3 linked regions of the Homo sapiens genome follow. The main gene of each other region encodes a partner of the protein of the gene in region 2 in a complex. Each region holds a gene or a part of one and is shown on either strand. Other genes may lie near its edges. The genes, in order: ELAVL4, G3BP1 and IGF2BP1.

Region 1 (10,911 bases), on a different chromosome or scaffold from region 2:
CTTTTACTTTCAGCTACTGTTCTTGCATAAGGCTTAGGAATATGAAGAGAAAGCAGGAAGATGAAGTATGAATCTACTCTTAGGTCCATTTACCTGCACAGGTGAACTCTTGGCGATTTAGACAGGTTAGACATCCATTTGTCACATTTCCCCCCACAGTAGCATTCTTCTAGCTTTCCCACAATCTGTAGTAGACAAAACTACTTAGGAAGGAGAAAGGCATTATTGACTATCAGGTCATATATCTCACAGAGAACATTCGACAGTGAATTTCTGATAGACTCCTTCACATCAGTCTGGTGCATCTTTCTTGCCTCTGTAGTATGTTTGCATTTTCCTATAAAAATTGATTTAATGTTTCTACATGATAAAGAAAAAAAAAAGACAGAAACCAACACCACAATTCAACAAAGGAAAATTAAGCTTTAAATTTTCTCAAAAGCTTTTACATATAGTATACCATTTTCTGGGCAGACTGATTGTATTTTTCCTAAAGAAGGAAATGCCAGCAGTCTAGGTTTATTTTTCAAGGGAAGAGGTAAAGGATGAAAATAAATTGAACCACAGGAAAATGTCAGGTCATAGTCACTGATGACGCTATTTAAATGGTGTGCTATAATCATATTAGGGCAGAGCACATGGAATTCCTGATTTCTGCATGACAGTGAAGAAGGGCCAGCAATTATCTATATGTGTGTGTGTGGATATGTGAGTGTCTGTTCACTCTACCTTCCCACCCCATTTTGCTAATTCAATTGAGGGGCAAGAAGAGGTAATCCAGACAGCCGGAACAGGAGGAAAAGGTCTGCAGCTGTGTTCGGAGGGACTGGTGTGAAGAGAGAGGCTCAGTCTGACTTGGAGTTTTGTGCTGTTGCACGTGAATGCTCTGGAACTGCCCTAATCGACTGAAAATGAGCCGGCTACAGTCATATGGAACAGGTCTGTTTAGCCACATCACTGGATAGCCTGGCAGATGGTAGACCGTCAATGGGTGGTATTGATTGGCTGGATTTGCCTTAGGGTAACAAGACTATGGGTCCTTAAAAACCCGCTTCATCTTATTTTCCTTTGTGCAGCTTCATACAGTAGTGGTTTTCTCTTCTCTCTCCCCCCAGTCCCCAGTATCCCCTTTTACCCTTTTCAAATTAAAAGTCTTCCTTGGTAATCAAAATAGAGAGGTTACCTTGAGATAAACACTCTTTAAATTAGCACCAAGGCAAGAAAACTTGAGAATATTTTATTTACTAGGCTGATTACATTTTAATGTTTGAAGAAAGTGACATTTTTTAATTAGTGTTTAAGACATATGGTGAGTGTACAAATTAGCTTATTTCATACAACCAGAATTTGATGAGAGCAACTCCTCCTTCTCACTCCCCAGTTAAAAATTGTCACTTGAAACTTAATATATGCAAGGAGGTTAAATGGTATTAAGTGATGCCGTCTTGACTTAAAGATGAAGGACATAGTCACTATTGTGTATGGCTAAATACGGCCTGGATGGGCTGGGAAAATATTACTGTCAACACCTGTGTTTGCAAGAAAATGTGGAGGTTCCAGACCTTTAATTTTGTCCAGCCAAGAAAAGAAAATCCCAGGTATCTGTGTGTGTTGGTTTCTGTTTTAGACACATGTGGAACATAGAATGGTGTTGCATGCTTTATAAGTAATAAGATCCTCCTTAAAATCAGGCCATATAACAATATAAGTGATGTAATTTATTTTTGTTCAGGTGGTTCTATATCCTTTTAACATACCCCCAATCACTTGGAGCTTTCAACTTGGGACATTCTGTTTATTCTTGGCAGAGGAGCAGATTAATTGGAATAGAGTGATACAAAGGAGATGCCAAGTTAGCTATACATCCAAAATAGTATACGACAGAAATGTTCCACTTCGAGGCAGATCTTCGGGAAAAAGAACAGCAATGGGTAGAGACATGTGATTGGCTTGCTCTTGTGGTTGTTTATCACTATTCATATAATTGTATTTTTAAAAGAGAGGCTTAATATTTTGTATTTTTTTTCGGTGTCTTTACTTTTAAGCTTTCAGTTATTTCTTATCAGGAAAGACCCACATTAAATAAACCTAATTTCTACCCAGAAGAAAAGTTGCACCCTTAAACTCTTGCCTCCATCTTGTATGTGCTTCATCCACATGCACACTTTTGAGTTTTCATCACTGTGTGTGAATATTTTTCTGTTTTTGCTAAAGAGAAATATTTTCATGAGGTTTTTGGCCTTCCCCATTGCTCTGTGTTGATTGTATTTTCCTTGTTCATCCTTTGCTGAATGAAACAAAGCTTGTTTGTGTTTCATTCTTCGCAGTTCTTATTAGAATTTGTGGCAGTGTTTTGTTTTGTTTTGTTTCATTTCCTTGCTTTAAGTCAAGAGAAGGAATTTTATTTATTTATTTTGACAAGATATAGTGAGAGACAATCTTGCCTGTTAAGATGCTAGTGTTTCTCATGTCACATTTTACACCCAAAAGCTATTCCAAGGGGAAAAAAAAAAGAAATCTTTTAAGATGGTTCATTTGAATCTGTGCACTCTACCCACCTGGTGGTTATATAGTGAACTGTTACTTTAAAGAGTAGTTTAAACACCAGCCATGTTTGGGGCAGGCTGCTCTTGCAAAGAGAGCAGTACATATAACAGGAGTCTACTGTGTGTGAGATAAGGGGAAAATTCAGCTCACTGACTAGAGGTTTTAATGTACGAACTCTAGGGAAATAATATATTGACTGTTCCGTGGTGCGCAAGAAAATTGAAGAACCCTTTGCAGACGGAGTGCTTTGCAAAGGATTCTATCTGTTTCTCTTAAAACAAAATCTGTGGCAAGATGTTTGAAATCAGCAGGACGCTTAATGCTGCTTTGTTAAATAATGAGGTAATATTTTGTCACTTTTTTCTGGGCAGCATCTGTTTTTCCCCCCTCTTCTTTTTTTTCCCTATATTTATGAAGGATTCCTTTTTTTCCGCCTCATGGAAGTCAAGGAAATACAATTCACGCTTCCATTTCTGTTCCTTCCTTTTGGTGCTTTTGGAGAATTTGGTTGTCTTTTTTTATTTGCAGTTTCAGCCGGCTGCTGTTTCCTAGCCCATTGTGCCACGTAAGGCTTCTCCACTGCGCGGAGTAGGTAGTTATTAACGCTGAATTGGCTTCTGGTACAGTCCATCTGGACTCTGTGTGGGAAAGCTGGCTGCCGGCGACTGATGCTGAGATATCTGCAACCTTTGGGATGTGTGCATGGTGGCAAGGGGCTGACTGATATGAGATTACTTCTTTTAAGGGAAATTGTCATTAATGAGTCAAGAAACTGCTCATTTATGGTAAGAGGAATACAGCGGCGCTGGCAGCCCCACAGTGCTGGGATATCATTTTTAGGTTGCCTTAGCTGCTTGAGTGAGACAAGTTTCTTTCTGTGGTGGTGGATTGTGGCAGAAAAAAAAAATCATGCATGACTGGGAGACTCGCCTGCCTGATTCTTGAGATAATATATTGAGAATCTGTTGCTTTACAAATGTCACATCACTGATGTAGCGGTCAGCCCCTCACTCTGAAAGATGAATTGTACTATTGGAAATGCGATAATAAGGTTGACTTTTCCCAACAATAGGATTCTGCCTTTGTCTTTAGAGAAAAGGCCTCTGAGGACATTTGTGCATTTGTTTGAGGATTCTGTTGAAAGACTTTAAAGTGGAGGTTTGTGGAAAAGTGATCAATATACAAAATGCATGAATTTTTAGCCTAGCAAAACCAGCTAGTTATTTATACTGTATATACAGCTACTATTTTGGAAAAGTGGCCAGAATACCTTTTAATATACCTAATGTTAATTTATGGTTCAATAAGTGTACTGAGGTTAGTATGGATGGGAGAAAAGGGTTTTTAAAATTTTTATCTTTTATAACCTCCAGAGAAATCTAAGTAAATATTTTGTTCCAAGTGAGCTGTTTTTATTTGTGTTTGTCAGCATTGTCTTAATGTTTACTTTTCACAATATTTTAATATTGGTGAAATTGCACTCAGAGTTTATGTTGTTGATTTGGGGCACACATACCTACTCTGTGTATATATGCTGAACCATTTAGAACACTTTAACCTGTGAATTCACCCTCAGTACACAGTTCAACAGATACTGTAGTACTATTGTGACTCACAGGACATTTTATACATTTGCTAAAGAAATTACTTTAAAAGTTTACTTAACTGAGTATTGTTCCACCTTAAGGAATTATAGTTTTAACATTTGTACTTTTCTATTTCATGTATTTTCATTTCTAATAGCTGAACGTATTCATACTCAAGTCTAATGGATTATGCAGTGTACCCAACACATATTGTTTTATGATGTATCTGTATTTTCTGAAGTGTGAATATATATGTATGTTTATATGTGTGTGTTCATGAAACAGCATCTTGGACAGAATAGTTTTAATCTTGAAAAATGTAAGGTTATTTTCTTTCCTAATAATTTTTCACAAACCCATTTATTCTTGGACTTTGAAACCCAGAAATATAGCTTATTTTTTGGTCTGTATGTCTACTCTGCCTAGTTCTGTCTCACTGTCAACTCTAGTCAAAGATTAAAGATTACATTGAATTTTGTATTTGGTAATATGTGTTACCACTGTGTATTTATTGAAGAACAAATTGATTAAATTATGAGTTAAATAAATAGTGACACATTAGTCTTTTGCATAGGTGTGAAGCATGAACTTCTCAGGTAAGCCACTTAAAAAACCCAAACCAGAACAAAAAATACACTACTGAAGGCTTGGTAGTGTAGAGGTTGTTAAATGTGTAAATAGGCAGACAAACTGTATACCTCACCATACACTTGCTAAATGTCTCTTTGCAAATCTCTTAAGAGGCCAAAGAAAAAAAGACATCCCTTTGAAGGAGAGAAGCAAAATCACTTATTTAGTTAAGCAAAATGAACACTCTGCACAGGTTTTGAAATGAGGCTGTTGTCAAAAGCATGTTTTACCTTTCTCTAAAGGGGTAGGAGAATGTGTTTTAGTGGATTTTTAAAAATTCAGATCATGTTCCTATCCAACTTGAAAAATAAATTCATTTAAGTAAATCATTCATCATCCTCAGTTTTGAAAAGCTCAGACAGAAGGCAGAAAGGTAGAGGCTGACAGCTGCCCCTCCCTTACCCCCACCATTTTTTTTCTTTTTGTTTATTAGGAAATAGTTTTCTGAGACAAACTTGTATGAACCTAGTTCACGGAGCAAGCTTAATCCCCAACTTGCTTGCTTTTGAAATGTTGGCCATGTTAGCTGGAGAAGGAGCATTACTTACTAAAAATCAGCAATATCTGGAAATAATAAAGTTAAATTGTAGATGAATTAGCACATTAAAGTGCTTTTGTTGTACCTTTAAGCCTACAGGCAGATCATTAAATATGCATTTCGCTAGAAAGCAACTGTCTAGAAAGATAAGGTGGTTGAAAATATTCTACGGTGGAAAAGCCCTCCATCAGAGAGGTGGCACGGTTCGGCCCTCAGGATGGGAAAAGAAGGACCCTCCCACTGTTAGTTTAGGTTTGCAAGCCTCCAGTGACCTGCAGTTGTTACAGTACTTTTGAGCTGGGAGGAGGGAAAAGGTAAAAATACAAGTATGGCTGTTGTTGCTTCAGCCGGGCCTTAATTACCAGACACAAGAAGCAGTTCAGAAATCTGGTCTCTGTTGTTGTAGAGGTCACCAAATCATTAACATCGTCAATCTGGCAGTAGCTAATTTAAATAGCACCTGATGTTGCAACGCCTCCCTTCGTTTCCCCAGCCAATCAGATCCAGGCTTCGGCTGACAGATGGTCCCATAAATGGATGTAAAAAGGGGAAGCTTCGAGCCAATTTCAGCAAGGCTCTGTTCAGTTGTTCTTATCTACATCCTAGAATCGGGGGTTTCAGCTCACTGCTCCTTTTCTTTTTTTTCTTTCTCTCCCCCGCCCACCCCCCCAAAAATAATTGATTTGCTTTACAATCATCCACACTGTGTTTTGTGGATCTTTAATTATATATAACAATAGTAGTCATTTTAAATATATATTCTGAAATCTTTGCAAATTTTAACAGAAGAGTCGAAGCTCTGCGAGACCCAATATTTGCCAATAAGAATGGTTATGGTAGGTATGACTAGATTTATAATCTGTTGTTTGTGTTGCTGGAGGGAAGAAAAGCATCTACACCTTGACCAGTCTTATGCTTGCACAAGAGTTTAGTTCTGTGCTGCTGTTTGGTTCCTACATTTACTATCTCTTTTGTGTAGAGAGTGCGGGTAGGTCCTTTTATTGAAAAGCAATGGGGATATAAGATTGTCATTTTTAGCAAGTCGTTGTCAGTTTTCCCTTCAACATAAAGGCAAGGGGTGGAGGGGGAGGGCTGAAATAATTGCTGGTTTATTGAAAGAGGTTATATTACTTGAGACATAATGGCAAAAGAAGGGTTTTCTTTTTTGTAAGGGAGAGGGGGTTTGTCTACGTGCCTGGGTTTTGTGGGGCTGGGGGTGGATGCAGCGGGGTTAGGAATCTCTCAATTTCCGTGCTGGAAATTTAAACCTCGAGAGGCAGCTCCTGGATACTGAACACTGAGATGGGCAGTTGTGTTTCGGGGGACTGCGCAGTCAAAACGGCAAAGAGAGTGATTTATTTGGGCTTCAGTAAATGCTGCATCTTGTATTTCAAAGAGTTTCCTGTCATGACCTCATAAAAAAGAGGAGGCGGCTTGTATGTGTAGCAGTGCCTGGCGTGTTGAGTTGTTGCTTCCTTCTCTGGGCAGCAGCTCTGTAAGAAGGAATGTCAGCTTTTACATAACGTTCCTTTCCGCTTTTGACACACTGTGTGAGGGTCCATCTTCTTCTGATCACAGATGGAGTGGAATGGCTTGAAGATGGTAAGTGAAAAGAGGAAGGCAGCCTGGAGGTCCCAGCCCTGTGTGTGTGTGTGTGTGTGTGTGCTTGTATGTGTGTATGTGTAAGGATGCTGGACTGTGCATCGTAAATCACTGTGCTGATCGTTTGTGTGTGTATGTATGTGTGTGTTTATTAGTATTTCTCTTTTCTGAAAACCAGAATCCATCTCCAAGTGTAATGGCACTGCATGCACACAAGGCACACACACTGCCTCTTCCAGCAAACACACATTTTAGCCAAGGAAGGTTGGTGTCTTTTTTGACAATCAATGTCACCGTCACTGTTGGCTGGCGTGTCCACCGCCTCTGTGAGCCTTCAACGGAATTACACGACTGCTAAAGTTAAAGGCACATTTCTTTTTCAGTCTCATGCTAGGAGTGATGGGGAAGGATGGGAATGAGGGGTGGAGGAGGTGAGATTCAGTACCAGCCGATGCAATTGTGAAACAGGACTTTCGGATGTGGAAGGGGAAGTGGAAAACCTTTCTGCCGAAGTAGTAAATCTATTTTTAGCATCATCTTTTTCTGAAAAAAGAAGCAGGGAAACTCCTTGAGTGCCGCTTCTGTCGCCTGATGTTGACCCTGAAGATATGGCACAAAATGGCATGATTAGATGCCACGAGTGCCCACTTTGACTTTGAATTTTCACCAGCAATAGGTTTCACAAGGTTTCAGAGCTGGGTATGGGGGCAGGCTGTAAATTCATAACCATCTTACTTATTTTTCCCTAGAAAAGCCTGGGGAGGACTTTTTGCTCTGCATAGATGTTATAACAAAGCTGTGGTCTTTTTCCCATTCTTAGAGGATTGCCTTTGTCTGGCTGCTTGTTTTGATGGGTGTAAAACAAATAAGATTAGACCGAGCAGCCCAACTGAAAGCGATAGCTGGGAGGAAAACCCAATGAAAGGTTGCCGGGGAAACGAACAGAGGAGAAGCCGAGTAGGGAGCAGGTGGCTATCATGAGAACACACTGCAAACAGTGTAAAAAAAAAGGGGAGGGGGACAGGACCTCGATTATCTTTGCTGTTCTTTGTGGCCAGCCCAACTTTAATTATTCGTTATTAATAGGTGTTAATTACATTTCTAACTCTGGTTTACAGTGATTTTTAGAAATCTATTTTTAAGCATCTGTTCTGTCTCCCCTGTTTTTGTGTGTGTGTGCGTGTGTGTGTGCGCGTGTGGTTTTTGTTGTTGTTGTTGTTGTTTAAAAAACCCAGAGAGGAGGTGAGGGGGAAGGGAGGGTAGGGAATCTTGCTTTTTTTTTTTTCCTTTTTCCCCCTTTTCCCTGGTGTGAAATTGTACATGCGAAAAATCGCAAGGAATCCTGTGAGACCATTTGAAAAAATGTAAATTATATTGAATGAAGTTGACGGAAGCATAATAGTGAACTCCCACAGCTGATAGGTTCTGCAAATGATTTCTTAGAAATTTCCAGCAAATATTCATAGGAAAAATATAGGTAGAATAGATCTACCCTAAGCAATGATTTGGGGTTAGGTGATTTTGGTATTTTTACTAAATCGGATGTTGATACTATAGTTTCAGGGGAATTCATTGTACCTCTCATTTTTTTCCTCAGTAGAAATTACTTTACAAAATAATAAATGAAGAGCTTTTTGCTTTCCTTCTTTCCCCATGCCCACAGTCACAGGATCCATCAGGCTTGCACTCTCATAACCACTGCCTTCCATTTGGCATTTGGTCCTGATTCTGGTCTTGGCACAAACTGAGTGAAAAGCTGATTTTTATATTAGTGTCTTTGGACGTCTGGGACCCATGTGTGCACTGGGTGACAAGCATCTCTCTTTTTTCTCTAAATGTGCTTTACTAATAGTCTCTTTTTCTCATGATGGTGGGTACCATAAGGATTGAAAGGTGTAGTATTTGGGTGAACAGGAGATAGCGTAAAAACAATTGAAATGGTGATCTGTTAGGGTTTTTTACTAAAGGACAAAATAGATGCATGATCAGGGAGCTAATTGTAAGCCCAAAAATGAGAGATTTAAAAATGCTGAAATACACTAAAAGATTAGGAAATATAATTGGCTTTATTGAAAGTACACTTAATTTTTGCTCTCTTCATTGCAAATCCCCCCAATTCTTTTTTCCTTGCAGATGCGTCTTTTTGTTTTCTCTTCTTATTAGGGGATTTAAAAATTTTATTTTCACTCTTGAGGTAAAAATAAATAAACTTGTATTTTTTGTCATACACTTGAAACTTGCGGCCATATGTTGAGTGCATAAGCCTGTGTCACCTTTAAAAAAATAGAATTTTTTTAAGTCTCCAATATAGTTTCTTTTTTTATTTTCTGAGAATTTTCTGGCAATTTTTAGTTAGGGGAAAATAATTTCTGTAAGAAGTGTCATCTTGGCTTGGGTTGTAAAAAAGACACGTGGTTCTGATGCTGACCTTTCTCGATCCTTTGTCTTAAAAATATTAATGCCTACTACCTTCATGTGGAGTTGTGCTCTTATGGAAGCACAAGGCTGAATGTGCATTTATTAAGAAGTGAAAATCCAATTGGAAATATTTCTGCAAAAAACATCTGACTAAGTAGCAGTTTTAATGATCAGAATGTCCATATATCTCATAGTAACATAACAGCTAAATCATTTAATATTTAAATTTTTGAAAGGGTAAAATTAACATAGATGAGGAAGTAGCTGAAAAATTACTTTGAGAATTGTTGATTTACAAGACAATTTAATATCTCATTTTTTAAAAAGCTAACAAACAACTTAACCATTCATTTGTGATCTCAGTCCCATTCATTTTTACCTGCCATTCATTCAAGTCATTCTCCTGGCCAGATGTAGATGGCCTTGCTTCTGTTTGATGGTTTGCACAAAACCTTAAAACTTTTTCTCTCCCAATACTCCTTCCTTGGTCCTTTGAAAATTAGGGTGTTGTTATGAGAGGAAGGCCAGATTGTTGTGAGATAATAACAATAGAATATTTAGAAAGAGAGAGAGAGAAAGAAAATGAACTGCGCATTTGCCTTTTAGTTCTAAACTTAGTCTTGAAATTGGATTTGGGACACTTTGGACTTCAGATATTTTAAACTTAGGATTTCTATTAGGTATAAGCTATTTGAAATTTCACATCTAGAAATTATTGTTTGAATGGTGCTTTGTATGTGTGTGTTCAATATCTCTAAAAGGACTTGTGGATGAATTGAGATGTTTTTCTCAAGTTAGAGTTACTGTGAACAACAATGGGATTTCCTCAGAGTAAGTCTTTTTTTTTTTGGTTTGATTTCTTCCCTTTACACTTATTTCCTTATTATAGGTGGGTTCTTTTCCTATATGTAGGCCAAATACTATTTCTTCCATGAGGAGATATGCTGCTTCATTTAGCCCTGAGCATCTTAACACCTTATTTTAATTTTTTTAAAAAAAGAAACAAATTGTCTGTATGTACCTCAAGTAAGAAATGGTTGTCTTCATAGAGGTCATCATACATAGACGAAAGTACTTTGGCCTTGACAAATTTCTTCATTAGCTCCAATGATCTGTGGCCACCAGGCAGTTAATTTATATGCCTAGACATTTAATATGTACATTTGTTGGTGAGCTGGCCAGAGGATGCTAAACACACGAGTATGCGCTGGCAAATGCTGCAATGCAGTATTTTTTTCCCAATGTCATTGGGAATTTTGGGGCTAGGAAGGGACATGAACATTTTCAAGCTTTTATCTTACTATTGTCCAGTCGATGGGCCATGTTGTACAGATTTGGTCAATTCTCCTTTTGAAAGTAAAGTCAACCTTTTATTTACCACTATCCATTCCCCCATCCATGTAATGTATATGTGGAAAGTGTGTGTGTGCGAGAAAGAGAAGCAGAGAGACTCTGTGTGTATCAGTATAAGTGTGTTGCAGATTCCTGCACCTGTCTTAGGCTTTCCTTATTTGGTATTACTAAACATGTATACACACTTACTTGCAAGTATATGTGCATCTATAAATGGAGAGAAAACCAAACTGGGCT
Region 2 (10,645 bases):
TAATCTGGAGTCATCTTTCAGGGTAATACTTGTATCCCATTAATTTTAGTGGCTACACAGCTTTTTATAGAGATGTAGTGTACTTTAATCTCCTAATGATGGATCTATAGATTGCTTCTATTATTTTCTCTTACAATGTCGCTTTATACAAAACTGTCTATTTATGTGGACTTGTTAGAATAATTTCATAGAAGTTTCAAAATGTGTATTTGCTGGACCAGAACTATTTTTTCCCTTACACCTTGACCAGCTTGCATATTGGATACCACATGATTATCAGGTATAAAATAAAATTTATGAATGTATTCAATATGAATATTTTCAATTCATAAAATAAAATTTATGAATGTTTTGACATTGCTCTGACAATGGAATATATCTCGTGTGTGTGTGTGTGTGCATGTGTGTGTGTGTGTGAGAGAGAGAGAGAGAGTTAAGTCTCAGCTGTCTCCCGGGCTGGAGTGCAGTGGCAAGGTCACAGCTCACTGCAGCCTTGAACTCTTGGGCTCAGACGATCCTCCCACCTCAGCCTCCTGAGTAGCTGGGACTGAGGTGCAATCCACCACGCCCAGCTAATTTTTTGTAGAGACAGTTTTACCATGTTGCCCAGGCTGATCTCGAACTCCTGGGCTCAAGCAATTCGCCTGCTTCAGCCTTCCAAAATACTGGGATTACAGGTGTAATTGGGTTTTTTTTTAAGGCTTTAAAATTTCCAGAACATTTTTTCTCATTTCCTCCTGATCATTACAAAAATCTTTACTGAAAGGTAGGGCATTGTAAGAGAGTTAACTTCATTTTGCAGATACACTCAGAGGGGTTAAAAATTTGCAGGTACATATGCACATGACTATTAAGTGATAAAACAAGTCTCAAAGCTGTTTTTACCCTTTCTTTCTTTTTTTTTGAGACAGTCTTACTCTGTTGCCCAGGCTGGAGTGCAGTGGTGAGATCATAGCTTACTACAGCCTTGACCTCCAGGGCTCAAGTGATCCTCCTGCCTCAGCTTCCTACATAGCTAGGACTACAGGCATGCACTACCATGCCCAGCTAAGTTTATATGTGTGTGTGTGTGTGTGTGTGTGTGTGTGTGTGTGTGTGTATTATTTATTTATTTATTTTTAGTAGGTGGAGTCTCGCTCTGTCACCGAGCCTGGAATGCAGTGGTGAGAGCTCACTGCAGCCTCTGCCTCCCAGGTTCCGGTGATCCTCCTGCCTCAGCCTCCTGAGTAGCTGGGACTATGGGTGCGCACCACCACCATGCCTGGCTCTTTTTTTTTCTGGAGACAGAGTTTTGCTCTTGTTGACCAGGCTGGAGTGCAGTGGCGCTATCTCGGCTCACCACAACCTCTGTCTCCCAGGTTCAAGTGGTTCTCCTGCCTTAGTCTCCCGAGTAGCTAGGATTACAGGCATGCGCCACCATGCCTGGCTAATTTTGTGTTTTTGGTGGAGACGGTTTCCCTGTGTTGGTCAGGCTGGTCTCGAACTTCCGACTTCAGGTGATCCGCCCACCTTGGCCTCCCAAAGTGTTGGGATTACAGGCGTGAGCCACCGTGCCCAGCCTTTTTTTGTATTTTTATATTTGGTTAATTTCTTTCTACCCCATAGAATAAAACTGACATAAAACATAACAAAAAGAAAAAAGCATAGGCCAGGCATGGTGGCTTATGCCTGTAATTCTAGCACTTTGAGAGGCTGAGGTGGGCGGATCACTTGAGGTCAGGAGTTCAAGACCAGCCTGGCCAATATGGCAAAGCCTTCTCTCTATACTAAAAATACAAAAAAAGGCGGAGGTTGCAGTGAGCTAAGATTGCGCCATGGCACTCCAGCCTGAGCAACAGCACAAGACTCTGTCTTAAAAAAAAAAATGTATTTATCTGGAAGACAAATGTCAAATCTTAATAGTGGTTATCCCTGGATTAGAGCATTTTGGTGTGTTGCTTTCCTGGTAGAATATTGTTTTAATGAAAATGGATCAAAGGAGGACATAGATGGGTGAAAACCATGAGGAATTGACTTTGACATTCTTAATTGCATCAGCAGAAATAGTTAAAAAGTACTTCTAAAACCACTTGCATGAACTAGGTGTTTAAGGGGAACCGCTCACGCTTATTCTCAGATACATTAATAAAAGGACACTTGAAGTCTATGAAGAAGATAGCTGTTCCAGCCTTACCGCACATTTTCTTCCTGAGTGAAAATAGGAACTTATGTATTGGTGGCCATCTTGACATGAAACTACAAGATCCTTCCCAACAGTATCATCCTACACTGAAACCTGGAACCAAATCCATTCCCATTCAGCAAATGTTGATCAAGTGGCATGTAGGGGATACAGAGATGATTGCATACAAAGATGAAAAAGAAAACGTTTCTGCCAGGGCCAGGCGCGGTGACTCACACCTACAATTCCAGCACTTTGGGAGGCCAAGGCAGGTAGAATTGCTTGAGTTTGAGTTCGAGACCAGCCTGGGCAACATAGTTGACCTTATCTCTACTTAAATAAAAATAATCAGCCAGGCATGGTGGCATGTGACTGTAGTTCCAGCTACTTTGGGAAGCTGAGGTGCCATTGCACTCCAGCCTGGTCAGCAAGAGCAAAAAAAAAAAAAAAAAAAATGTGCACATCAAAGATCATAGCCCCGGCACATCGAAGCTGCAATGAGCTATGATTGCATCACTGCACTCCAGCCTGGGTGACAGAATGAGACCCCGTTGCAAAAAAAAAAAAAAAAGTTTGCCAGTATCAGACGTGAAAAATAAACTTAAGATACTTGAAGATGACAAGTAAATCATCTTCCCATTTTACAGATTTTATGGAAAGAACTCTTCTTATGTCCATGGGGGATTGGATTCAAATGGAAAGCCAGCAGATGCAGTCTACGGACAGAAAGTAAGCATTTCAAGCCTTATTTAGGCTGTTAAGCAGGTAGAAAATAACTCATAAAATTGAAGTGGATCATACTTAATAGATTTGCTGATAAAGATCCAGTTTCTCAACTTTTTAGTAAAAGTTGATGTGTTTTATTACTATTTGATTAATATATTTGTTGAAATACTTATGTGATGTCAGATTTGTTAATTTTGTATGATATATTCTAAAGCTTTTGTGTGTTGGAAGATAATTGGCTTTAGCATGGGGATCATCTTTTCTAAACTTTGAAAAGTGTGTTAATTCAGGACAGTTATTTAAAAAACTCAAGCGCGGTCACTGGGAATAGAGTATACAAAGAAACATCAAAATTCAGTCTGCATATCCTGTAATTTAAATATACACATTCTCTTTGTGTTGTGTTGGAAGGTTTTTTTTAGTTGGAGGTTATTTAAATTTTAAGGCATTCTCAGTTGATTATTATTATTATTATTATTTTTTTAAGGAAATCCACAGGAAAGTGATGTCACAAAACTTCACCAACTGCCACACCAAGATTCGCCATGTTGATGCTCATGCCACGCTAAATGATGGTGTGGTAGTCCAGGTGATGGGGCTTCTCTCTAACAACAACCAGGCTTTGAGGAGATTCATGCAAACGTTTGTCCTTGCTCCTGAGGTATGTGTAGGAATGATTATTTTGTAGTGATCCAATACATGAAAAAAGAAACAATGAACTGTTGTGCATATCTTTAAAAACACTTGAAATTTCAGACTTACAGAAAACTTGGAATAATAGTACACTAACTCCTATATACTCCTTACCTAGAGCAGCTGTCACCACTTGCCCACATGTGTATAATTCTTTCTCTAAAATAGTTTAGTGGGCATTTCCTAAGAATAATTCTCTTCCATTCTGTAGTACAGTTATCAAATTCAGGAAATGTTGATGCAATATAATCTATAATCCATTTTTAAAATTTGGAAATTATCTCAATAATGTCTTAACAGTAATTTTTTTTCCTTGTCCAACATGGAATCTATAATTACACATTGCATTTAGCTATCATGTCTCTAGTCTCTTCTAATCTGCACTTGTTCCTTAATCTTTTGTTTTTTTTTATTGCATTGACATTTTTGAAGAGCACACTTTTTTTGTAGGATGCTTTATGGGTGTCATTCAGTGCTTCACATTAGGCATATTATGTCATTTAGTTGTGATATGAATTTTGATTAGTTAGGTTTTGCCACTGTAAAGTTAAATATCTTTTCTCTCTCTCTCTTTTTTTTTGAGACGGAGTCTCACTGTATCGTCCAGGCTGGAGTGCAGTGGCTCCATCTCTGCCCACTGCAACCTCCGCCTCCTGGTTTCAGGCTGTCCTCCTGACTCAGCCTCCCGAGTAGCTGGGACTATAGGCGTGTGCTACCGTACTCGGCTGATTTTAGTATTTTTAGTAGTGATGGGGTTTCACCATATTCGTCAGGCTGGTCTCTAACTCCTGACCTCAAGTGATCTGCCTGCCTCAGCCTCCGAAAGTGGGATTACAGGTGTGAGCCACCATGCCCAGCCTTATTTTTTCTCTTTTTGATTTGTAAATGAAGGATGGGAGATTCTCTATCTTTTTATCTTTCTTGAACACTTATGGCAAAATATTTTCCAGGTTCATCTTGCACTGTTCCTGGCCCAGTCCCTATTCTTGAATCAGCTGTTCCTTCAAGGAGGCCTGGTTCTTTTTAGTTATACTTATGAAAGGACGACAAGTTTATGTTGAATGATTGCATTTGTGTTTTCTTCCGGATTGGTCTAGACTGAACAAGGTTAGGAATCCTGTCTGCTTAAGCATGTATATAGAAATGGCATAGTAAGAAATTGTTGATTAAATCATTGTTTTCTCTAGCATTAATCTTAAGTTTTCTTTTTAGGATAGCAAACCTGAAACGCCTAAAATCTTTTAACCTTTGAATATGAGATAACTTTTTGTCTGTGCAAAATTACATGAAGCCAATTATAGTCATAATTTTTAGAGGAAGGCTTAGATTAAAATGTAAAGATGTGGTAGACTTCTAAATATGCAAAGAATCACATGGAGTATGATTGTGAATTACAGGTTTAATTACAGTTTTTTTCTTTTAAAGGAAGTATCTAACTTCTTAGTATAATACACTATTATATAAACTGTCTCATTTAATACAGAGAGTATTGAGGTATATGTTGATATCTTTCTTTTTTGTTTTTTGAGAGAAGAGTCTCCCTGTGTTACCCAGGCTGGAGTGCAGTGGTAGGATCATGACTTACTGCAGCCTTGACTGCCTGGGCTGAAATGATAATCCCACCTGAGCCTCCTAAGTAGCTGGGACCACAAGTGCAGGCCACCATTCCTGGCTGATTTTTGTTTCTGCTTTTGTGGAGACTCACTCTACAAAAAACTCACTGTTGCCCAGGCTAGTCTCAAACTCCTGGGCTTAAGCAGTTCTCCTACCTCAGCTCTCCAAAGTGTTGGGATTTCAGGAGTGAGCCACTGTGCCTAGCTGGTACCTTTCTTTTTACAGAGGAGTAACAGCCTTAGAAACTGAATAACTCATAATATATAATTGGATCTGCACTCAGGTGTGTCTTATACCTACTGCGAGCAATCTTTTTCAGGCTGCACTACCCTTGAGTGTTTATATCAATATTTTTGGAGACAGACTTGGGGAATTTTAAATATCTGCTGAAGTTAGGAATATGATTGCCTTTTTTTTTGAGACAAGGTCTTACTCTGTCGCCCAGGCTGGAGTGCAGAGGTGCAGTCTGGGCTTACTGCACCCTCCACCTCCCGGGTTCAAGCAATCCTCCCGCCTCAGCCTCCCTAGCAGCTGGGACTACAGGTGTGGGCCATTATGCCTGTCTCATTTTTGTATTTTTAGTAGAGATGGGGTTTCACCATATTGGCCAGGCTGGTCTTGAACTCCTGACCTTAGGTGATCTGCCTGCCTCGGCCTCCCAAAGTGCTGGGATTGCAGGCATGAGCCACTGTGCCCATCCGGGATATGATTGCCTTATAATGTTTTGAGGTGTGGGCTGTGGCATTTACATGCTTAGGGCTTTGTCAGTTTTTGGATATTTATCTTGTGGTGAGGTAAAGTGTTCTGAGCAAACAAAATGTATGTGAGTGTAGTCTTTTTACCGGCTATTGTAGAGTGGGCATTTTCAGTCTTGGCACTGTTGACATTTTGGATTAACTAATTCTTTGTTGTGGGAGCCTGTCCTGTGCATTGTAGGAATTTAGCAGCATCCCTAACCTTATAAGTTGTCAGTAGCATTCCATGTAGTGAATACTGAAATGTCAGCAGGGCATGCTGGCTCATACCCATAATTCAGAACTTTGGGATGCTGAGGCGGGAGGACCACTTGAGCCCAGGAATTAAAGACCAATCCGGGCAATATAACAAGATCCCGTCTCTACTCAAAAAAAAAAAAAAAAAAAAGAAAAAAGAGAAATTAGCCTTGCATGGTGGCGCGCCCCTGTAGTTCTAGCTACTTAGGAGGCTGAGGCAGGAGGATTGCTTGAGCCTGGAATGTCAAGGCTGCAGTGAGCTGTGGTGGCTCACTGCATTCCCACCTGGCTGACAGCAAGACCCTGTCTCAGAACCCCACAACAACAAAAACTGAAATGTCTCCAGATATTGCCAGATGTCTCATGGAGGCAGACTTGTCCCAGTCACCAATGGTGTAGAGTGATTTGACTTTCTAAAAGTCTGTTGAATAAATTAAAACTTTCTGTTGGCATTGCAGGGGTCTGTTGCAAATAAATTCTATGTTCACAATGATATCTTCAGATACCAAGATGAGGTCTTTGGTGGGTTTGTCACTGAGCCTCAGGAGGGTAAGTAGTGAAATACTTTAAATTACTTGTCTAAATTTTTTTTAATGGCATCCGATTGCCCTTAAGAGACTATGGGTTTCTTTACTGTTTTCATTACACTCTGTTCTTCATTAATAACTAATTATGGTATATGAAGAGTCTGAGGTTTTACCCTACTTGAAGCTGCTAACAGGTTAGCTTATATCATGGATGTTAGTAGAAGACATAAGACTCTTAGGTCAGAAGGAGACAGGCTAACTCACAGCGACAGTAGTAGTATTTTTGCCACATTTACCAATAGGATGTCATGGAGAAGGCTAGGTGATACTTCTACTGCAGTGGGTTGTGTTAAAGGCATGGGACACTGAGTTTAGGGAACCCAGATCTATTACAACAGGCAGTAAACATGACTACTCTTTGTGCTGGAGGGAGATACTCTTTCAAAGCTGTTTGCTATATAAATGTTCTTGAAAGACAGTCTAGAAGAAAGGGTAGGCATGGAAGATGTGTAGACACAGAGACTTATGGAAAATTTTCTCCAAAATAGTAGAATTGAGTGTTGTTTATATGGCTGAGAGTATATTTATTTTGTAATACAGTTTTACAGATAAGCAATCATTTGCCTAGTAAAGTGGTAGAGCCTGCATTAGATAACTGCCTAATATAATTTGGCTAATGTCACGTAGCCAGTAAGGTGACAGAGCCTGCATTAGGCTCCATGCTCTTAAAAACCAAGACACTACAGTAGCCTTAAAGTCTATCCTTAAGGCTGGGCGCGGTGGCTCACGCCTGTAATTCCAGCACTTTGGGAGGCCCAGGCGGGCAGATCACGAGGTCAGGAGATCGAGGCCATCCTGGCTAACATGGTGAAACCCCATCTCTACTAAAAATACAAAAAATTAGCCAGGCGTGGTGGCAGGCGCCTTAGTCCTAGCTATTCGGGAGACTGAGGCAGGAGAATGGCGTGAACCCAGGAGGTGGGGCTTTCAATGAGCCGAGATCGCGCCACTGCACTCTCTAGCCTGGGCGAGAGAGCGAGACTCCGTCTCAAAAAACAAAAAACAAAAAAAAGTCTGTTCTTCAAAGCCTTAGTTCTGTCCTTAAAGTCAGTGCCATGATTTTACCAAATTGTCCTACTTTGTTTATTTATATATGTTTTTCTTCACTGTTGTTTTGTGAACATTGCGAAAGTTAATGTATATGTGAATTCAGTAAGTACAAATTACTTTAAATATCTTTTTCTCACTTAGAGTCTGAAGAAGAAGTAGAGGAACCTGAAGAAAGACAGCAAACACCTGAGGTGGTACCTGATGATTCTGGAACTTTCTATGATCAGGCAGTTGTCAGGTAAGAAGATTTTGTTCACATGTCCGGGGCTGCATAAGAACTTGCATTGTCTAGTCTTTCCCTTTGTTGGAGGGCATTTACATATTCTGAGAATTACCTCAAAATAATAATTTCTCAGAAGAATGGTTTTGTTTCTGGTAATTTTGACTAAACAAAAATATGTAACTTGTTTGTTAATAGTAAATTGTACTATGAAGGCAATCTACTATTGCTTAGTTTAAATAGTATCAGTTTCTTTTTGGTTTAGTTTTTTCTTGGTGTTAAGTGAAAACTTGCATATTGTTTATCAAGAGTTGAATGTATTGAGGTATTAAATGCTTTGAGGGAATATGAAGTGGACAGAGACCTATTTAATTAGAGATCGGGCATAAATTGATATAAATACCAATATGTGAGTTAAGTAGCAATAAAGAATTTCATTACGTTAGTAAGTGCATCATTATACCTTTGGGTTTTTTCCCCCTTGTGATTAGAACAGAAATGTGTTTGATAGCAATAGAAATCCATATTTACTTGTTACCATGTGATACTGAATGTTAATATTCAGTGCCTGAAGGGTGTTTTCAAGTGTTTCTTAAGGTGTGATGAACTAATCAGGTTACTCACTTGGGTTGCTGGTTGAAAATGAAGATTCATGGTCCCACTGCAAACCTACCGAATTAGACTTTCAGGAGGCAAAACATCTGCAGTTTTGTTTGTTTTTGTTCTATTGAGACAGAGTCTTGCTCTGTTACCCAGGCTGGAGTGCAGTGGCGCGATCTTGGCTGACTGCAACCTCCGCTTCCTGGATTCAAGCAATCCCCCTGCCTCAGCCTCCTGAGTAGCTGGGACTACAGGCGCACGCCACCATGCCCGGCTAAGTTTTGTGTTTTTGTAGAGATGGGGTTTCGCCATATTGGCCAGGCTGGTCTGGAACTCCTAATCTCAGGTGATCTGCCCACCTTGGCCTCGCAAAGTGCTGGGATTACAGGTGTGTGCCCAGCCCCCTCTGCAGTTTTAACAGCATTTCTGGTTGATTTATGTGGAATTTTAAGAATTGTATTCTGAATCATAACTATTTTCTCCCCCAAATTCCTTATGTGCTTGAAAGAGTTTTTGTGTGTTTGTGTTAAAAGCCACATATCATAAAATTTGCCATCTTAACCTTTTTTTCATCTTAACCATTTTTAAGTGTAAAGTACAGTAGTGTTAACTGTATAGATGTGGTTCTATGACAGATATCTAGGACTTTTCACCTTACAACTTTTATTGAAGATAACTTTATATACCTTATAAACAGACTATACCCATTGAATGGCAACTTTCTTTCCCGCCCCCCCCGCCCCAGCCTATTTTGAGAGTTTTTCTGATGTTGTATGCTAAATGAATTGTAATAGTTGTGGGATTCCAGCCATAAAGTGGTTTGGTTCATTTTGATGTCCTGATTCATTTGCTTATCAGAATTTGCCAAACAAATGGATTCCAGTTAAGTTATTGAGTGGCATTTTAAAAATTACTTTTTAAAAACTCAGATAGATATACAATTCTTAGATTTTTGTTTTGGATAGAAGGAGCTAACTCTGTGTTCTGGTTTCTGATTAATAAATGATGGAGGAATTTTTTGTGAAATAAATGGTGGCAGAATGATATTTCTCAAATTTTCCTGTCAAAGTAATGACATGGAAGAACATTTAGAGGAGCCTGTTGCTGAACCAGAGCCTGATCCTGAACCAGAACCAGAACAAGAACCTGTATCTGAAATCCAAGAGGAAAAGCCTGAGCCAGTATTAGAAGAAACTGCCCCTGAGGATGCTCAGAAGAGTTCTTCTCCAGCACCTGCAGACATAGCTCAGACAGTACAGGAAGACTTGAGGGTATGAAACGTGTCTTCATTTTTATTCTATTCCTAGTTATTTTTTTTAAAAAAAGTTTCTGTTCTTTTGTATTGCTGTTTGGTTGACTTGTAGATACATTTTCATATTGGTGGTTCATTTCAGGGAAATTTCTTAGATATTGAGCCATATGTTTGATAAGAGAGAGGTAAGATGTGTATTAGTTTATTTCATCAAAAGAAACCACTCCCTTCCCCGAGGTAACTTGAATGCCTGTTAGACCAGAAATTTTAGGTGCCACTGTAGCACCCTATCAGTGATTCCTTTTCTATTTAATATTTAATCTTTTACACTATAAATTATTACATACTTGTTACTACAAGTGCATAACATCTTTTCAAGAAAAATAACATGGCAGAATATACTTTTTCTATGAAATTTTATTGAAGATAACTTTATAGTGGAAGTAGAAATGAACTGCTGAAGTAAAACTTCTTTTCTAGTTGGCATACCTGATTTCAGAAGTTTTCAGTTTGTCCTTCTGAGTCTCGTCAGGGTGATTGTTAACTGAACTATCGTTGAAACCTTTGCATTTGGTGCTCTGGAAAGGAATATAATTTTTAGTGCTGTGTTTATAGGCTCAGGGTTATGTCATTTGTTTGTTCAATAATTCAAATTCCTGCTGTGTGTTAGGCATTGTTCAAAGTGTAGGTTTTATATTGGCAAAACAGATAGGGGTTCTTGTTCTCTGGCAGCTAATAGGTGAGTAGGAA
Region 3 (6,871 bases), on a different chromosome or scaffold from region 2:
ACTTGGCTTATTTCTCCAAGAAAAATATTCTTTTATTTTCATCTTTAAAAAAGTTGGTTTATTCTCTCAAACTTTTTTTTTCCTCTCTGCATGTATTTGTATATTCACATTGGAGGAAAATGGATTATTATCCTATCTTTAAAATGGAGTCAAATGTCAGTGTTTCTGAATTCAGATAATTAAATTCCATAACTAGACCAAACTGTTCTCCAGGAAAAAATAAAGAAGAGGAGGAAGAGGAGGAGAACAAGAAGAGGAAGAGGTATAACAGTATTAATATTACTATGTAGAATATACAATATATATTATATACGATATGTATTATAAAGGATAATTATTAAAGAAAAAACCATTTAATCCTGTAGCTATATTTTTAACTCTTACACAAGTGTAACTCTGCACTAAAGATTTATCTGTCCCAAAGAAGCAATGTAGAAAAAAAATTGAAAATAAATACAATATTTGATAGTAATCTTTAATGTTAACAAAAACAAAGAAAAGAAAGATGAAAAGTTATGGTACCTCAAGTCTGCCCATTTTTATCCCTAACCTAGGAATGTCAGTCTAGATAAGAAATAACCCTTAATGTGAGTGCTGGGCTCATTCAAAAGGGAGAGATGAAACACCAATCAATGTGATTTAGTTCCCCCAACCCCAGCCTAAAATAGCCAGGTCACTAAGGCAAAACTGATTTGGGGGCTAAAAAGATCTGTATCTCACCCCTGTTGTCTCCTCTCTTGTATTCTTGCAGCCTTTGCAGCTTCTGACTATACACACATAAGCCTTTTTTTGGGGGGTGGAGAGGATTAGAATTCAGTAAAACAGCTGATTTTTTAAAAAGAACTAATCAGTTTCAATTTAGCAATTATTGGTAATTTTTAATTAAATATTTAAAAGGATTTAAAAATAGCAGATTGTTCAAGTGAAATTTATATATTCTCTTCTAACGTTATCTTAAATACATTAAAACTGATTTCAGCTAACATTTAGTTAGTATATTTTTACATGGAAAAAAATCAACCTGAAAGTGAACTGAATTCACTGATTATTTTTAAAAATGTTGTTTCCCATTGACTCTAGGATAGTAAAAAGTGGACTGCATTTTATAGGAGTTTAGAGGTCTGGATGGAGATTTTTATGGGGTGTAACTTGCTTTTGTTTTAGGCATACAGAGGCAGAGTAGTGGATATGTCCCCCAGGGAGACAATCTGAGAAGTGCTTTTATTAGCACCTAAAGATTCAAATTAAATGAAAGAAACAGCACTTAAAGTTTCTGGGAACTGGGATGATCTGCCTAGTTGCCCTCCTCCTTGTTCCCCAATATAACAGAAAAGATTTAAGGAGATTGGGGCTCCTCTTTAGGAAAAGGCCAAGAAATACAACAGCCTTTTTGAGACCATCTTTTAGCCCTTTCAAAAGTCTACACACATCACCAAGAAAAGTTCCCGGGCAACAGAGCCACACGTTCTGGCCAAGATAATTTTTTCCCCCCTGGACTCTAATTTTCATCAATTCTCTTTGCTGTGCTGTTTGTATTAGCTTGTTTTTCATTTAAAAAAATGTTTATTGAGTGCCTACTATGTGGCATGCCTGTTTCCTACTCATTGGTTTGTTTAAAAATAATGCTTGTGACCAACAGCTAAGTATTAAGAGTCAGATAAGGGGGGAGGGTCGGAGGTGTGTGTGTGGGGGTGAGACACAGATGTCTCCCACCTTCTTGGACAGAAAATATTCTCTTTCTACTCAACAACAAATAGCTCCTAGTACTTTAATTCTTGTTGTTCCATGGGAAAAAAAAATCACAAAAACAAAAATCCGACAAACACGTGGCTGGGTAGAACAAAACGCTCATTGGGGAGGGTGGGCTCTAAGGTGGTGGAGGATATAGAGAAACCGAGTTGGAAGCCCTCCCCCGCCCCTAAGTCCCAGCCCCATTTCTTTTCAGCGCGCCGGGAAAACGGGGAGGGGGACAAAGGTGCTGCGTGCTGTCTTTCAACTCCCGACTTTTTGAATGGCATACAATCGTCCGGCCGCAGAGCGGTGAGCCAAAGTCGGAGTCAGCTCAGACTCTGCAAACGAAAAATAATAACAATAAAAAAAATTCAAGGCATTCATATCGGTGTAGTCAACACGTGTTGCGGAGTCGGCCCGGGCCGCAGGCGACTGAGACAATGGGGTCGGGGACTGGGGAAGGGGAGTGACCCCCTTCCTCACCTGCCCTCCCAGCACGCGTGCCCCCGCTAGAATTATCCTCCCTCCCACAGAGTCCGGAGTAACACCCCAGTTTTCGCCCTGTTCAAGGGGATTCCAGAATTTCTGGGGGTCGACCCCTCCTTTTTCCCCGTTCCCTGGGCGAGGGGGTTCCAGGGTCTCCGGGCCGCGCTCTCGGCCACCCCTGGCGCCATCCCAGCCTCCGCCGCTAGAAACTCGTTGGCCTCGCTCGCCGCTCCGCCGTGGAGCCGGGGCTTGCCCGTGGACCGCGCGTCCCGCTCTCCGCCGCGTATCCGGGACTCCGAAACGCGCGGCGAGCAGCCCCCTCCCCCACCGCCCAGACGGGGTGCGACCGCCCACGTGTCGCCCCTTGCCCAGTCGGGTCCTTCCCTCGGGCTCCGGGAGCCGGAGGATCCGGAATGAGTTGGTCAAAGCCGAGGGAAGGGACCCAGGCGGATCCGCTTCCCCCTCCCCAGGAACGGCGGGAGGAGGAGGGGAGTGGCCGCCGCCCCCTCCCCTAAGCTCCCGCCCCTCGCTTCCCCGTGCGCGGAGCGGAAATTACCCCCTCCCCCCGCGGGTCTGACCTGGGGACGTGGGCGGGGCTTCCCGCTTAGCCCCCCGCCCTCCGTCCCTCTCCCGCCTTCCCGCCAGGATCGGAATCCTGCACCCCAAACAAAGTTCCGAGACCCGAACCTAGGGCCTAGAGAGCTGCCAGCAGTGTCCCGGGTGGTGCAGGCTCTGGAAACTCCACCTGTCTGTCCCCGACTCTGGGAGGGAAAAGGGGACCATTCAAATCTCCACCCGGTCACTCCCTCCCTAAGACCTCCCCCTTCAGTTCGCTCCGGTTAGCCCTAGCTATCACTCCTCTTCCTTGTCTCCCACCGTTCCTGTCTCCTGGAGTCATCTCCGGCCAGTTCCGCGTGTTCCCCTCAGGACCCCGAAACGTTATCATTTAACAGCCGGACCCCGGGTGCGAACCACCCTTTCTCCCGTGGGGATCTCAAAACATTATTTCCTGCGGCTTCCTCGTTCTCCACTGGGATACCCCGTTCCCAGCTTTCCAGTCCCGCGCTCGCAGGGTCCCCCGGTCCTGCATCCCCGGAGGCGGGGGAGTTTCGTGGGGCTGGCGTGGGGAAGGCGGAGACCCCCCCCATTTAAACATCTAGGGAAAAGGTTCCTTTCTTTTTAAATCACCAGCTCGTGCGACCCTCTCCTGAAGACCCCAGAGTCTTCGGCTTCTCTTTGTCTGTCTCGGCCGTCCCCCGCCTGTCAGTCGCTAGCAGTTAACCGGGGAGGGGTGAGCAACCCCGCCCCCCAAAACGAATGAAAAATAACCGTACATTTTACCCTTTAAGACATGTGAGATCTGGGCTGGACCATCCTCCCCCAGTTTGGGCTGGGGTAGGGGGATGGGTGGGGGCGGGGCGCTTCCCTAGGGGCCAGGTTCTTGCAAAGGGGGAAGGGGCCTGTAGAGCTTCAGGGACGCTGCCGCACCGCCCCAGTTTACCCCGGGGGTGAGTTGAGTTCCCCACCCTCAGGCGGGAGATTATCGGGTTTGGCCGGAGGGCCGAGGGGCCCTGTGGCGTCGGGGGTCTTTCCCTGCAGGGTGGGTGGGGGCTGTCACCACGTGGCTTCTCCTTTTTTTTTTTTTTTTTTTTTCCGCTCCATTTTTTTTCAAGTCGATTTTATTTAGAGGCGGCGCCAGGGCGGCCGCGGAGAAACGTGACACACCAGCCCTCTCGGAGGGGTTTCGGACCGAAGGGAAGAAGCTGCGCCGTGTCGTCCGTCTCCCTGCGCGCCGCGGGCACTTCTCCTGGGCTCTCCCCGAACTCTCCCGCGACCTCTGCGCGCCCTCAGGCCGCCTTCCCCGCCCTGGGCTCGGGACAACTTCTGGGGTGGGGTGCAAAGAAAGTTTGCGGCTCCTGCCGCCGGCCTCTCCGCCTCTTGGCCTAGGAGGCTCGCCGCCCGCGCCCGCTCGTTCGGCCTTGCCCGGGACCGCGTCCTGCCCCGAGACCGCCACCATGAACAAGCTTTACATCGGCAACCTCAACGAGAGCGTGACCCCCGCGGACTTGGAGAAAGTGTTTGCGGAGCACAAGATCTCCTACAGCGGCCAGTTCTTGGTCAAATCCGGCTACGCCTTCGTGGACTGCCCGGACGAGCACTGGGCGATGAAGGCCATCGAAACTTTCTCCGGTAAGAACACAGCCACCTCCCGGAAAAGCCACAACGAGAGCCCCGAACAACGGAGACCCGCACCTTCCGGTTCCTCTCCCGCCAACTCCTCTCTTCCCGGGCCTGCGGGGTTTGGCCTCCGTACCCACCCTCGACCTACCCCCTTCGATGCCCCCTCCCTCGCTCTGCGCCTCCCACCCCCGCGCAGAAACATTCGGGATTTCCTCATCCCTTTCTCCCAGCCTGAGATAAGGAGCTCTGGCTTCCCCCATCCTTCCTCCCCACCGACGGGGCGGGAGCCCCCACTGGCAGTAGTGGGGGGTTGAATTTAGGGACACGGGGATGACCCCTGGCTGGGCGTTATTTCCACGCCCAGCCCCTCCCTATCCGCCGGTGGACGCCCCCCCAGCTGGAAAACCCCGGCTCCCGTTCCTCAGTCTTAGGCCTTTCCAGGCGTGGAAGGGGTACCCGGACCGCCTGCGATCTGTCCGCTTCGCGTGGGGAATGCAGCCCTCCAGCAGGACTTGCAAGGAAGGGGGTCTTGCCTCCCGCCCAGGGCCTGGGGCTTGAGCCATTTTGATTTGAAAGTGGGGCGTGAGCGGGGTGGCGCGGCGGCGGCGGCGCCGGGTCGCCATGCTGCTTCCCGAGACGCCGAGGCTGGGCCGAGAGGCGCGCGCGGTGGCAGTGAGGGACCCTCCCCGCCAGGCCCCGCTCCGCTCCCCCAGGTCCACCCCTTCCCAAACCAGCCCCGACAGGTGACCGCTCCGTGGCCCAAAGCCCGTCTTCCTGGCCAACAGAGAAAAATAAAGTTTCATTCTGCACACTGCCTCCCGCCCCGCGCCCCACTTTCTGAGGAACGGGGAGCCCTTTCTTTCCTGGCTCCTTCCCACATCTGGGAGCTGTGTAGGCAGCGCACCCACACAAATGGCCTCGCACCTTTCCCAAATCGGGATTCCAGAGCGATCCACTCAACAAGCCTCAGTGATTTAATAAAGCAAAAATTAAAAAATGAATAATAACGAATTTACAGACTCCACCATTCCTAGAGCAACCTTTTTCCCATCTGGATGCGGAAGCCACTGCCTGGATTCCTAGGAAGATCTCGAATCCCAGTAACTCCTGAATTATCCTAGTGTCTTTTCCCCTTCCTCTTCCCACCCCCAACCCCTGTTCAAGCTCTCATGGTAATTTTTTTTTTTTAATCTTTAGGGAAAGTAGAATTACAAGGAAAACGCTTAGAGATTGAACATTCGGTGCCCAAAAAACAAAGGTAGGAAAGAGCTCTTTTCGGGGGGGGTGGGGGGGCCGCGGGGGTGTGCTGTGAAGCTGTGTTCAGGGGTCCATAGCGTCTCCAGTGGAAGAAACCCATTACTGGTCTTTCCCACCCCCAACTCCGGATGTTGGGGGCAGGGAGGGAAGATTGGCCAAGATCTTGTAATGGGTGGTTTACAGCTTGTAAAAAAAAAATAAATAAGTTGGGGCTGGGGTAGGCTAAAAGATGTTACTTGCAGAATTAAAGGGGAAAGAAAATCAATAGGGGAGAAACCTTGTGGAGTTTGTTTGTTCAACTCGTGGGGCCGTTTTTTGTGGGGGAACCTTAAAATCTTTGAAGAGTTCAGACTCATGGCGATTTCTGCAACTTCGTAGCAGGCCTCATTTTCTGTTTTTCCCACTCTTTCCACACCATAATTCTTAAGTGGATTGCCCTTCTCCCGAAGCGATGTGGAATGAGTTTCCCGGCCCCCAAAGAATCCCCTTATGCTTGTACTTTATTTATATTTCTACAACAGGCAAAGACTTTTTATTTTCCATGGACCCCCCACCCCCAATCCCTCATATCTCACATCATCCCTCTCCCCAGCTGGATTTTCCAAAGAATATGCCTTGGCTGTACTATCCTTTTCGAGCCCCCCTACCCCCACTCCTTCAGCCCATTGTTACCAGGGGACCATCTGGGGTGAGAGCTTTGTGTTGAGGCTGTGAGCTGGGGCTCTTTGGAGGGTCTAGAACTCCGTGGATGAATGGTGTGTGTGTGTGTGTGTGTGTGTGTGTGTGTGTGTGTGTTCGTGTGTGTTCCAATACCCTCTATCCTCTCTCTTCAGCAAAATGGGGTACCTCCATCATACTTACCGAGAATTCATGGTGGATTTCAAATCTTGCATTGAACTCTGAAACCTTTCCTTGAACTCTGGCTGGGAAGTATAAGGGCAGAGTCTTTCTACTTTCTCAAATCAGACTTTAAACATGTTGACAGTGTAGAGTTTGCTCTCATGTCCCAAGCTGGAAAGCAGCCCCCAGTAAATCTTTGATCTTCCTCACCCCCCATTTCAGCTGAAAACTTGGTACATTTCAGGATAGTCTCTGGCCTTTTCCGGGTAGATGGGAGATGATGACTGCTTTTTCTGGGGGACCATTAAGAGGGCCTAGAAAGTTTAATGTGAGATAAAAATCTGTTCAGTTGCTTAGCTTGATATTTAAGTAACTT

Evidence for each region.
Region 1: G3BP1 (region 2) and ELAVL4 share a complex: the UniProt entries of both Homo sapiens proteins name them as parts of the TAU mRNP complex.
Region 3: G3BP1 (region 2) and IGF2BP1 share a complex: the UniProt entries of both Homo sapiens proteins name them as parts of the TAU mRNP complex.

The regions. Positions count from the first base shown.
Region 1 is NC_000001.11:50,103,062-50,113,972, forward strand, and holds the start of ELAVL4 (ELAV-like protein 4), read left to right. Parts: upstream 1-5,858; 5' UTR 5,859-6,128; coding exon 6,129-6,137; intron 6,138-6,771; exon of another isoform or gene 6,772-6,879; coding exon of another isoform or gene 6,880-6,903; intron 6,904-10,911. UniProt on the Homo sapiens protein: RNA-binding protein that is involved in the post-transcriptional regulation of mRNAs. Plays a role in the regulation of mRNA stability, alternative splicing and translation.
Region 2 is NC_000005.10:151,787,515-151,798,159, forward strand, and holds part of G3BP1 (ras GTPase-activating protein-binding protein 1), read left to right. Parts: intron 1-2,808; coding exon 2,809-2,890; intron 2,891-3,374; coding exon 3,375-3,548; intron 3,549-6,644; coding exon 6,645-6,735; intron 6,736-7,964; coding exon 7,965-8,061; intron 8,062-9,712; coding exon 9,713-9,914; intron 9,915-10,645. UniProt on the Homo sapiens protein: Protein involved in various processes, such as stress granule formation and innate immunity. Plays an essential role in stress granule formation.
Region 3 is NC_000017.11:48,993,514-49,000,384, forward strand, and holds the start of IGF2BP1 (insulin-like growth factor 2 mRNA-binding protein 1), read left to right. Parts: upstream 1-3,871; 5' UTR 3,872-4,232; coding exon 4,233-4,407; intron 4,408-5,595; coding exon 5,596-5,656; intron 5,657-5,755; exon of another isoform or gene 5,756-6,871. UniProt on the Homo sapiens protein: RNA-binding factor that recruits target transcripts to cytoplasmic protein-RNA complexes (mRNPs). This transcript 'caging' into mRNPs allows mRNA transport and transient storage.